Linked DNA regions of Homo sapiens: region 2 is linked to region 1. The links come from fine-mapping of genetic effects on plasma protein levels. A gene starts in region 1. The other region holds a variant in brackets. All regions are shown on one strand. Distances are from middle to middle.

Region 1 (5,374 bases):
CCTCCCCTCCTTCTAGATACATTTTATCAAGACCCCCAGTCATAGAATTACCCTTGCTCTTGACAGCATCCAATCCAAAGCCAAGCCCTGCTTCCTTAAACTCTCCCCAGATTGTCTAACAAAAGCCCAAATTCTGTAAATTCTTTCTTCCACCTTCCTACAGAAATGCACCCCCTTTGCCCTTATTTCCCCATTGCCTGCCTTCTCTCTTGCTGCAATGAATAATTAATACAACTTCTTTAATACAGGTGTGTTTCCGGTGGTCTTTGACTGGAATGGCATCGACACAAGTATCAGCTATCAGTGAGCATAAAATGTTATTATCAAAGTTAAAAAATGTTGCTTCTCAAAACTAGTTGATGATAAGAGACGGAAAGTAGTTGTTCCTTCTGGAGGATGGGTGGGGGTGATTGATTACAACTGAGAAGCCAACCTTTCAGGATATTGGAAACGTCCTACATTTTGAAGTAAATGGTAGTTATAGCAAATGTTTTTAAGAAGTTAAGCTGTATACTTTAGTGCCCATTACATACTTTATTGTATACCTATTCTACCTTTATTTTAAAAGTTTTGTCCACTGGTGGTGCGTGGTGGCTCACACCTGTAATCCCAGCACTTTGGAAGGCCAAGGTGGGCAGATTACTTGAGGCCAGGAGTCCAAGATCAGCCTGGCCAACATGATGAAAACCCATCTCTACTAAAAATACAAAAATTAGCCAGGTGTGGTAATGTGCCTGTAATCCCAGCTACTATGGAGGCTGAGATGGGAGAACTGCTTGAACCCAGGAGGCGGAGGCTGCGGTGAGCTGAGATCCCGCCACTGGGCCACAGAGCGAGACTCTGTCCCCCCCGCCCCCCTAAAAAAAAGGAAATCCAAAGCTGGTCACCCAAATACCAACTTGAAGCAATTTAGCAACAAAGTAAAGGCCAGAGTTGGGATGGTAGCTGATAGATTTGAAGGGAACTTTGGGCTACTGGAGGATGAGATCTATGATGAAAATGCTGGAAAATCAACCATTTGCTTAAAAAGGTAAAGGCATTTGGGTTGTTTATCCTAGAAAAGACCGGATTGGAAGGAAGTATAGTTAAACTCAACTGTTTTATTTTGCAACAGGGAAGAATCTGATTGTGCCCAAGGAAGAGCTTCCTAACTGTGACAAAGGAGGTAAAGGAGGTGGTGACATGCCCATCCCTGGGAAATTTTAAACTCAGCTGGCCAGCAAATGGCTCCAGCATGGCCTGGTCTGGGAGTAGGAGACTGAAAGAAATGACCTCCAGCTGTCCCTCTCATGACCAAGGACCTCTGGCTTGTCGTGAGTGTTCTGGCCAGCTGCACAGCACGGATTAATGGGCCAAAGGGAGCCGCTCTCTGATCTGCGCTAAGCTTTTCAGGTTCTGTGGCCACCGCCATCAGCCACAGATTTAATGAGATCCGAGGCTTAATTACCACAGTGCAGGGCTGCCAGCACTCTCTCCTGATGACTTTATCTTGGCTCCTGGAAGGATGGGGGTGACAACAGTGTGTCGGCAGGAGAGGAGAGCCTAAAGCAGGGACTCTGGACCCTGGTGTTTCGGGGGGATGTGGGCTGCAAGAGTAGGGTGGAGGGGGCGACTGCAGGACTCAGTACCTGACCTCAAAGAGCTCACAATGTGTCAAGAGTTAAGACCTCTAATACAGGAGATACCCAAGGCAGTGTGAGTCGACTCACATGTGCGAGGCACACACAGATGTCGGCGGAAACTTTGGAGGCATGAACAAAGCTCCCAGAGGAGGGGCGCTGAAGGGTGGGGGGTGGGGCGTGGGGGAGTGCAGGTTGGAGAAGACCTTGAATGTCAGGCTAAGCAGTTGGGACTTCACTTCATAGGTAGTAGAGGGCCGTTGAACGTTTTTGAGCTGCCTGAACGATCCAAATTTCCTATAGAAGTTTACAGAACTCCTGAGGATGGGCTCTGCCTAACGCCCACTCCCCCGAGAATACTCTCCTTCCATCCCTCACACTTAGCTGCAGCCAGCACTGAACTTAATGCCATACTCTGAAACGTCCTTCACAGTCTCTGTACTCCTGGCTACGTTCTTTCCTTATATCGGGTCTCAATGTTAACAAACATCACTCCCTCTAAAAAGCCTTGCGGACACCGCCCTTTTCCCCCAAGCCTGGCCAGAGGCCCCTTTTCAAGGCTCCCACGCTTGCTGTGTCTCCCCATGAGATCACGGCTCTGTGCTGTCATTATTCATTTGTCTGAATTCTCTGCTAGACTGTGATTCTGTTGAGGCTAGGAGCGGTATCTTGTCCATCAGTGTCGCTAAGAACCAGCATTAGACAGTAATGTGGGATGGATGCGGCCCAGCAGATTACTCGGGTTCCTCCCCTTTCTCTGCCAGGGAGTCTTTTGAGGACAATGGAAAATCACAGGTGTCAACAGATGCAGGCTGGTAGGGAATGTCCCCTTAATTTGAATGATCAGTCTATTATTCTTACAGGAAGCAAAGTGTGCAGAAGACACAAAACAAACTCCAACCTCCTCCCACCTCCTTGAGAATAAAGCGAAGCGGGGACCATTTCTAGGCACGCCTGAGGACTATTTGAGGAGGGTGAGGCGGAGGGTTACGCACGGGACTAAGGCAAAACCCTCCGCTCGAGAGCAGAAATCGCGGCGGCACCTCTTCAGGCCACCAGGGGGAGGAATCACACCGCATCCCAGGCCTTGGGCGGTTTCGCACGACCACGCGGGGCTGGACGGTCGCGTAGAACTCTGGGAGGTGTAGTTTTAGAGTTGTAATGCGCAATCTCGCGCACTGTACATCGGGAATTGTAGTTCTAGATTGAGGAACGAGAAGTGCTTCCAAGCGTCCATTTTGAGCCTTGGAAACTACGACGACCAAAGGGCCACGGGTTCATGGGTCGTTTCTCATTTCCGTCGAGTTAAACGTCTGGGGCTGCTTCTGAGGAATCAGCTTGACTGGGTAAGTTTGATTGGAGAAAACACCTATATCTCAATTGAGCTTCCTGCAGACTTTTGTATTCTGGCCCGGTTTGGGGCCTCGGCGTCTCTCAGTCATAGGAATTGCACATTAATCTTCGTCCTTTACGTTTCCTATTCAGACACCTGTAGCCACCCGCTCCCTTGACCCTCCCACGGTCGCCTCGCACTTTTAACGGCCAGTGCCCCTGGAATCCCCACTGAGCTCCCGTCCCAGGACCCAGCCCCCGCAGCCCCACCTTGGACCCCACAGCCCTACCCTGATTCCTCGGCCCTACCTTCACCCTGCAGCCTCACATCCCTGAACCCCGGGCTTCTTTATGCTCCTCCACCCTTTGTGTACTTTACTCTTACTCTCAGTTTTCTGTTTTTCATGGCGGTGGAAGAAGGGTCCCCATTCCTTCTTTCCGATCCGCGATTACCCTGGACTCGAAGTCAGCAGACCCGGTTCTAGGCCAGCTCTGCCTCTCACCCTCTGTGACCTTGGGCAAATCATACAACTCTGGGACTCAGTTTCTTCCTCTCTAAAACGGAGATGACTGTTGCTCCATCAGTCTCAGGTGAGGAGTGTTGAGGAGCCAACAAGCTAGTATGTGTGAAGATGCCTTGTAAACTGTAAGACCTTCACAAGAGACAGAGATTATTTTTATCACAATTATTAATGCTCTGGAACACTCTTATCAGGCCTCTTCTCTAGCTCTGCCACCTTGTTGCTCAATCTCATCCCTCGAGTGCTTGGTGTCTTCATTGTCTACGAGCTGGATGATATTTCCTCACTTCCTCCAGAGACCAAAGGTCAGGCCAATGAGCTTTTAGTCTTCAGAGAGCTTTGTCTGAAAGGAAGCACAAGAGAAGTGCTTATCTTGGACTGTATCTTGAAATAGCCAGTGATGAAAGTGTCACACAGCTGGCAGAGCAGCAGTCCTCTGCTCACCAGAAACAGGGTCCCAGCAGGAGAGGACAGCTGCAACCTAAGCCCCATCCATTCCCTCTGGGCTCCTCTGGGCCTGTTCAGTAGACACTGGCTTTGGTAGGGGTGTCTGAGGCCTGAAAAGGCTGCTGGGAAAGAATCTGTTTTGCCAAAGGGCTTAATCCAGGAAAAATGAGAGACCTTGGCTAGGAAAGAGAGACATAGCATTGTTAATTAGTTCCTAACATTTTATAAGCACTGAAAATGCACCAGGCCCTAGGCAATATTTTCACTTACGAAGTATCCATTTTACGTATAAGGAACTTGAGAGGCATGTAGTTAAAATAATTATAGTTGCCTCCTATGGTTATAGTACCTTCTATCCATCGAGTGCTTTACATGCATTATTTAATCCTCATCAACAATCTCGTGAGTAGTTACTATTTCTTTTTTTTTGAGATGGAGTCTCGCTCTGTCGCCCAGGCTAGAGTGCAGTAGCGCGATCTCGGCTCACTGCAAGCTCCGCCTCCCGGGTTCACGCCATTCTCCTGCTTCAGCCTCCCAAGTAGCTGGGACTACAGGCGCCCGCCACCAGGCCCAGCTAATATTTTGTATTTTTTTTAGTACAGACAGGGTTTCACCGTGTTAGCCAGGATGGTCTCGATCTCCTGACCTCCTGATCCGCCCGCCTCGGCCTCCCACCGCGCCCGGCCCATAGTTACTATTTCTTTTTGAGACAAGACCTCGCTCTGTCACCCAGGCCGAAGTGCAGTGGCACAATCTTGGTTCACTGTGGCCTCCGGCTCCCAAGCCCCAGCAATCCTCCTACCTCAGCCTCCTGAGTAACTGGGACTGCAGTTGCATACCACCACATCCAGCTAATTTTTTTTTTTTTTAATTTTTTTATAGAGACAGGATTTTGCCATGTTGCCCAGGCTGGTCTTGAACTCCTGGGCTGAAGCAATCCTTCCCATTTGATCTCCCAAAGTTCTGGGATTATAGGCATGAGCCACTGCGTCTGGCCATAGTTATTATTTCTGTTGTGAGAATAAATTATCAGAAGCTTAGAGTTTGAGGAACTTGTTCAAGATCACACAGCTAATAAGTGACAGGGGTAGAATTCAGAGTCATCAAAACCTTTGTCCCCCATTATTTCATATAGCCTTATTTTTAGATCAAAAACAAAGATTAAAGAAGACTTGAGATGGGTTTAAATCATAGCCAAATGAAGGAACATTTATTGAGTCCCAACTATATGGGGAAAGCATGCAGATAGACAGTTTGGTCTACAAAAAAATATAAAACCCAATCTTTACCCCCGGAGTAGATCTGAAGAGATGAGGCATAAGTGTGCCAAAAATTAAATAGTATTCATTGGATAAATTAATTATTGAGACCAGCTATATGCAGGGCACTACATTAAGTCTAGTGATAGGAACATGCTTCTGGGTGGCCATGGGGATTATAGCAAGTGAAATCGTA
Region 2 (5,374 bases), 24 kb after region 1:
AAGTAAACATGAAAAGTGTGATTCTCACAATTCCTGCCTACACAAGGCTGTTCAGTCTAAGGATTGCTTGACTGTTGCCCCTTCCATAGGTAAGAGATTCTTGACAGTGTGGTGTTGGTGGACTCACTTGCTGTATTGTGCCTTTGGCCTCATTGCCTCACTATTTCTTCCTCTTGCTCCTGATGAATTCCTAAAGAAGCAGTCCTGAGTTTCTGACTTGGCTAAGTTCTCCACTTTCCTCAGGGCAACATTGACATGAGCCGTGTGGCTGTGATGGGA[C/T]ATTCATTTGGAGGGGCCACAGCTATTCTGGCTTTGGCCAAGGAGACCCAATTTCGGTGAGTTTCCTAGTAGTGTTGCTGTGCTTAGCTCCATACACCGTTTATTCATTTAGAAAGTATTTGTTACACAAGTACTATATTCTTGGCACTGTTTAGGGACTGAGGATTCAGCGGTTAAACAAGAAAACAAGATCTCTGATTTCATGGGATTATATTATTGTGGGAGGAGACAGACTAGTGAAAAAGCCAACCGATAATAAAATCCCCATGACCAAGTGCAATGAAGAAAAATAAAGCTGAGCATGTTGGCTTACTCCTGTAACCCCAGCGATTTGGGAGGCTGAGGCAGGAGGATTGCTTGAAGCCAGGAGTTTGAGATCAGCCTAGGAAACATCACAAGACCCCATCTCTACAAAAAATTGAAAAAAACAAAACAGCCAAGTGTGATAGTGCATGCCTGTAGTCCCGGCTACTTTGAAGCCTGAGGCAGGAGGATCACTTGAGCCCAGGAGTTCCAGGTTACAGTGAGCTCTGACCGCACCACTTCAGCCTGGGCAATAGAGCAAGATCCTGTCTCAAAAAAAACAGAAAAAAGAAAACAGGCTGATATGTCTCTGAGAAAGTGAAATCAAGACTGGGAAGGCAAAGAAGCCAGTCGTGTGAAGATCTAGAGGAAGATCTTTCCAGCCAGCAGGAATAGCTAATGCAAAGGCCCTGCAGTGGAAAGAAGCTTGCTGTGTTAGGGTGGGAGGAGCGTAGTGAGTGAGGGGGAGGCAATTTAAGCTGTGATCAGAGAGAGAAGCAGGGGCCAGATCACAGGGTCATCTGGCCAGGGTAAGGAGGTGTATATTTTATTCTACGTATGATGGGAAACTGTTGAAGATTTTCAACAGAGAAATATCAGTCTTACATTTTAAAAGATCCTTCTGGCTACTATGTGAAGAATGGATTGTAGCAGGACAAGACTGAAAGCCTAGAGGCTCATTAGAGAGATTCTGTTTCAGAGTCAATGTGAAAGATGATAAATTTACATCAGGATTGAGATAGTGGGATGGAGAGAAGTGATTGGAGTCAGGATATGTCTTAGAGTTTTCAGGATTTGGTCATGTGGGAGGTGAAGGAAAGAGAGGAAATCCAGGTTTTTCTTCTTATTTTTTTCCCTCTGAGACAGGGTCTTGCTCTGTTGCCCTATGCTGGAGTGCAGTGGTACAATCAGCTCACTGCAGCCTCAACCTCCTGGGCTCAAGTGATGCCTCAACCTCTCAAATAGCTGGGACTACAGGTACATGCTACCATGCCCTGCTAATTTTTTAATTTTTTTTTTTAAGAGATGGTGTCTTGCTATGTTGCCCAGGCTGGTCTTGAACTCTTGGGCTCAAGTGATCCTCCTGCCTCAGCCTCCCAAAGTGCTGGGATTACAGGGATGAACCACCATGCCCAGCCCAAGGTTTTTCATTTGTGTATCTATTATTTGAGTGGAAGATGATTGTCCTTTATTGAGATGGAGAAGAATAGAGGAGCATTTCAGGGGTCTGAGGAAGGAAATGGCAAAATCTTAAGGCCCATAATATTGCTCTTGGTGACATGGTTTTGCTGTTGGCACCAAGGAGGCTTTTCCTGACCTCACATAGAACCTTGTGCAATCAGGGCACTAAGTTATATTGTTTTGCCACTTTGTCTATTCTGTCTTCCCTGCTGGACTGGGAGCTCCTTGAAAGCAGGAACACTCATTTATGTCTATATCCAAAGCACATAGTAGACACTCAATGAATGTTGAATGAATGAATAATTAAATGAATGAAGTGCCATTCTGTGGAACTCAGGTCAGTCACCTGAGAGTAGATCCAGGAGAAGAGGGATATCTGATCCTTGTTCTCAGAGAGTTTGAAATCTAGAAGGATCTTTGGTGAAAAGTAAAAGTGATCCCTACCTAAGATCCTGACTGAAGGCCGTGGGCCCTGGTACCCCCCTCCTGGCTTTCTGAGCCTTTACCCCACCAGAGGGAGGAACTCCGCCCTTCCCTCCACCACCCTAACTATTCTTGCCTGGGATCCGCATGGCAATTCCAAATGTCTGGTCCTATTCCAGGTGTGCGGTGGCTCTGGATGCTTGGATGTTTCCTCTGGAACGTGACTTTTACCCCAAGGCCCGAGGACCTGTGTTCTTTATCAATACTGAGAAATTCCAGACAATGGAGAGTGTCAATTTGATGAAGAAGATATGTGCCCAGCATGAACAGTCTAGGATCATAACCGTTCTGTGAGTAAACCACAAGGTCGTGATCCCAGGGCCCTCTCCATTTGCCACTTGCTGTGGTGCCCTTAACTTCTGGATTACCCAAAACTTTCTACCCATTAGTAGGATACCTGAATACTTCCTGAATTGCAAAGTCTAAATTCTTTTAGAATTTTCTGTCTGTCCTTCTTCTCCACTGAGCTCCATCTACAGTGATTTATTCCATAGTTTATCTGACTTTATGACAGGATTTACCTAGTACTTTCTGAAAAAGGGCATTATGGGGTTGGGTGTTGGAAAGGAAGTGGTGTGGGTTTGGATGAGTTCCAGAGATTGCTAGCCTCATTTGGGAATTTTATTGGGTCTTTGGAAGAGTGTGAATATGGTAGACCTTTGATATTCACCAGACACATTTCTAGAGACCTTCATGAATACCAGAATCACAGATCACTGTTAACATATGTTGTCTTCCATAAACCTTCTATATTCTGGTCAAGAGAAGCCACATTTTTTCACTTCCATCATCAGCACTATCAGTTAGTTTTCTTTTGGGAGCCATTTTTCACAGGGAAAAAAACATTTTTAGTGACTTTAAGAAATGTTCCACATGTGGGAGGTGATATTGAGCCACAGATGTCGGGCTGAGATCTCACGGACTGCTCCTGCCCTGCAGTTGAGCCCAGCGGCACACAGGATCCAGGGATCCATCTGGTTCCTATTTCAGCAGAATGACAAGTGACTGCATACCATGGACCTTTGGAGTCACTGGGTAGTTGAAGTGCCAAATCCAGAGCCCTCGAGCACTGGGGCCGGCAGTATGGCCAGTGGCTTCTTCCCTTGCTCATCTTGGTCCTGGCCCTCTTTCCTAGGGCCACCCCTCCTCGTTCAGTTAGGTTTCATGGCAGTAGACACTGCCTGAATGCTTCCCCAGGTCAGATTCAGGAGGGAAAGGAGGTGAGGCCAGTTGGGAAGGGGTACACTCAGGGGACTTAACGCCTGGCAATGTATCGTTTATTCAACTGAGTGCTGGATACTCAAGTATCCCATATATTATTCTATACACCTTTTTGTGTGCCTTAACTAATGCATTTTTTAAAGTCAGTTTTTCTGTGATATCAGACAAATACTTTAGCATTTAGATTCTCTTTCTCTCACTGAATTGACTAGTAAATTCAGTTATGAATAATTTAGCCCAAAATTAACCTAGCAAGGATTTCACCTGCAAATTAAATTTATTTTCTGCCAAAGGACTTAAGTTCCAACCCAGAAACCCCCTTTTACAAAGCACTCACTCTTACTTTTCTGATTGTTTAAATAAAGGCAAGTAATTCCTTTTCCCTCTTCACTCTGTGGTACAGTTCTGAAGAATAACTTCATTTGTTTTGTGAATGTTTGAAATTCACCAGGCAAAAGCCACAGCTAATAGATTGTAGTAACATAGAAATGCCACGTGCCACAGATCCCACCTCCTTGCTCCTGTCCCTGCTCCTGCTAGCTCAACCTTTTCCCTGCACTGCCAGGCATTGTAGTCTACGGGTCAAGCCAGCTTTGAAGCCAAGCACATCTGGCTTCAAATCCTAACTCCATCCCCAACTACTTGTATGACCTGACCCTAAGCAGATAGTTTCTCTCCTTGGATTCTGTCAAGGGGGAAAATACTTCCCTTACAAGGTTGCTGTGAAAATAAAGTGTGATAATACATGAAAAGCACCTTGCACATAGTAGGTGCCTAACACACATCTGTATGCCCTAGCCGCCAGACCCCTGCCAGTTGTTTTTCTTTTCCCCTAGTGGTTCTGTTCATCGGAGTCAAACTGACTTTGCTTTTGTGACTGGCAACTTGATTGGTAAATTCTTCTCCACTGAAACCCGTGGGAGCCTGGACCCCTATGAAGGGCAGGAGGTTATGGTACGGGCCATGTTGGCCTTCCTGCAGAAGCACCTCGGTAAGGAGAAAACTGGGGCTCTTGGGGCAGCTGTGGGGTCCCTTAGATTTCCTTGCAGCAGAGTGAGAACTCTGACATGTCTGGGATCTGGGAAGGAGATTTATGGCAAATGGAAAACCTGAGTGAAGGAGAGACTTACATAGAATTACAGAAAAAACAAGTCCAGGTGCAGTGGCTCACGCCTGTAATCCTAGCACTTTGGTGGGTTGAGGTGGGAGGATGGCTTGGGGCCAGGAGTTCGAGACCAGTCTGAGCAACATAGTGAGACTCTATCTTTACCAAAAAAAAAAAAAAATTAGCTGGGTGTGGTGGCACACACCTATAGTCCCAGCTACTCGAGAGGCTACGGTGGGAGGATCAGTTAAGCCTAGGAGGTCTAGGCTGCAGTGAGCCATGATTGCACCACTGAACTCCAGTCTGAGCAACAGAGCAAGACCTTGTTTCTAAATAAATAATTAAACAAATAAATAAGAAAAAATACTTAACTGAAAGTTTGGAGATCCTGACTATCTTACTTGCAGAATGACCTGGCCTAGTCATTTAACCTCTCTGAACCTTGGTTTCCTCCCTGTAAATGGAGTATTCACCTCTCTCTACTCCACCACCTCTCTCCTTACCCAGACTCATTATTGCCCACCTTATCTGCATTGTAGGGGAGTTTATGAGGATAACGGGCTAAATTTATGGAAGTGTTTTAAAGAAACAAAGCATGGAAGGACTATGAATAATGTCATCAGTCATAGAGCAGCTAAAGGGCGAGGCCTGCAGAGGTCCATGGTCCAGCTTCCACCCAGAGGAGGCATCCTCTTATTAAGCTTTATTGGTTACAAAGACTAGAGGTTCACAAACTTAGCTTGAGAAAAAAAGGGGAGTTTGTTTATGAGAGTGCACCTGGACTGGGTGGGAGTGCAGTTA

Which allele goes with the higher level. Positions count from the first base shown, and alleles are read on the strand shown. Strength reflects both the effect of a copy and how common the allele is.
With allele T in place of C in region 2, the plasma level of the protein whose gene starts at base 2,927 in region 1 is lower (weak association).

Evidence for each region. PIP is the posterior inclusion probability: the model's chance that the variant is causal. Protein levels are from antibody-based Olink assays in UK Biobank. Linkage for the fine-mapping came from a reference panel and not from the study's own genotypes, which makes the PIPs less certain.
Region 2: its variant is fine-mapped to the plasma level of the PAFAH2 protein (UK Biobank, PIP 0.98). The variant lies in the coding sequence of PAFAH2. If it changes the protein, the assay may bind it differently, which can mimic a change of level.

The regions. Positions count from the first base shown.
Region 1 is chr1:25,995,616-26,000,989 of GRCh38, reverse strand. PAFAH2 (platelet activating factor acetylhydrolase 2) reads left to right here and starts at 2,927. Exons shown (of 11, transcript NM_000437.4): 1 at 2,927-2,965. RefSeq lists enhancers at 2,782-2,831, 2,842-2,931, 3,102-3,181.
Region 2 is chr1:25,971,643-25,977,016 of GRCh38, reverse strand. PAFAH2 (platelet activating factor acetylhydrolase 2) reads left to right here. Exons shown (of 11, transcript NM_000437.4): 8 at 244-335; 9 at 2,367-2,537; 10 at 4,305-4,459. Among named protein-coding and RNA genes, the nearest start is that of PAFAH2, 24 kb to the left of the region's middle. The variant C/T (reference allele first, on the strand shown) is at 280.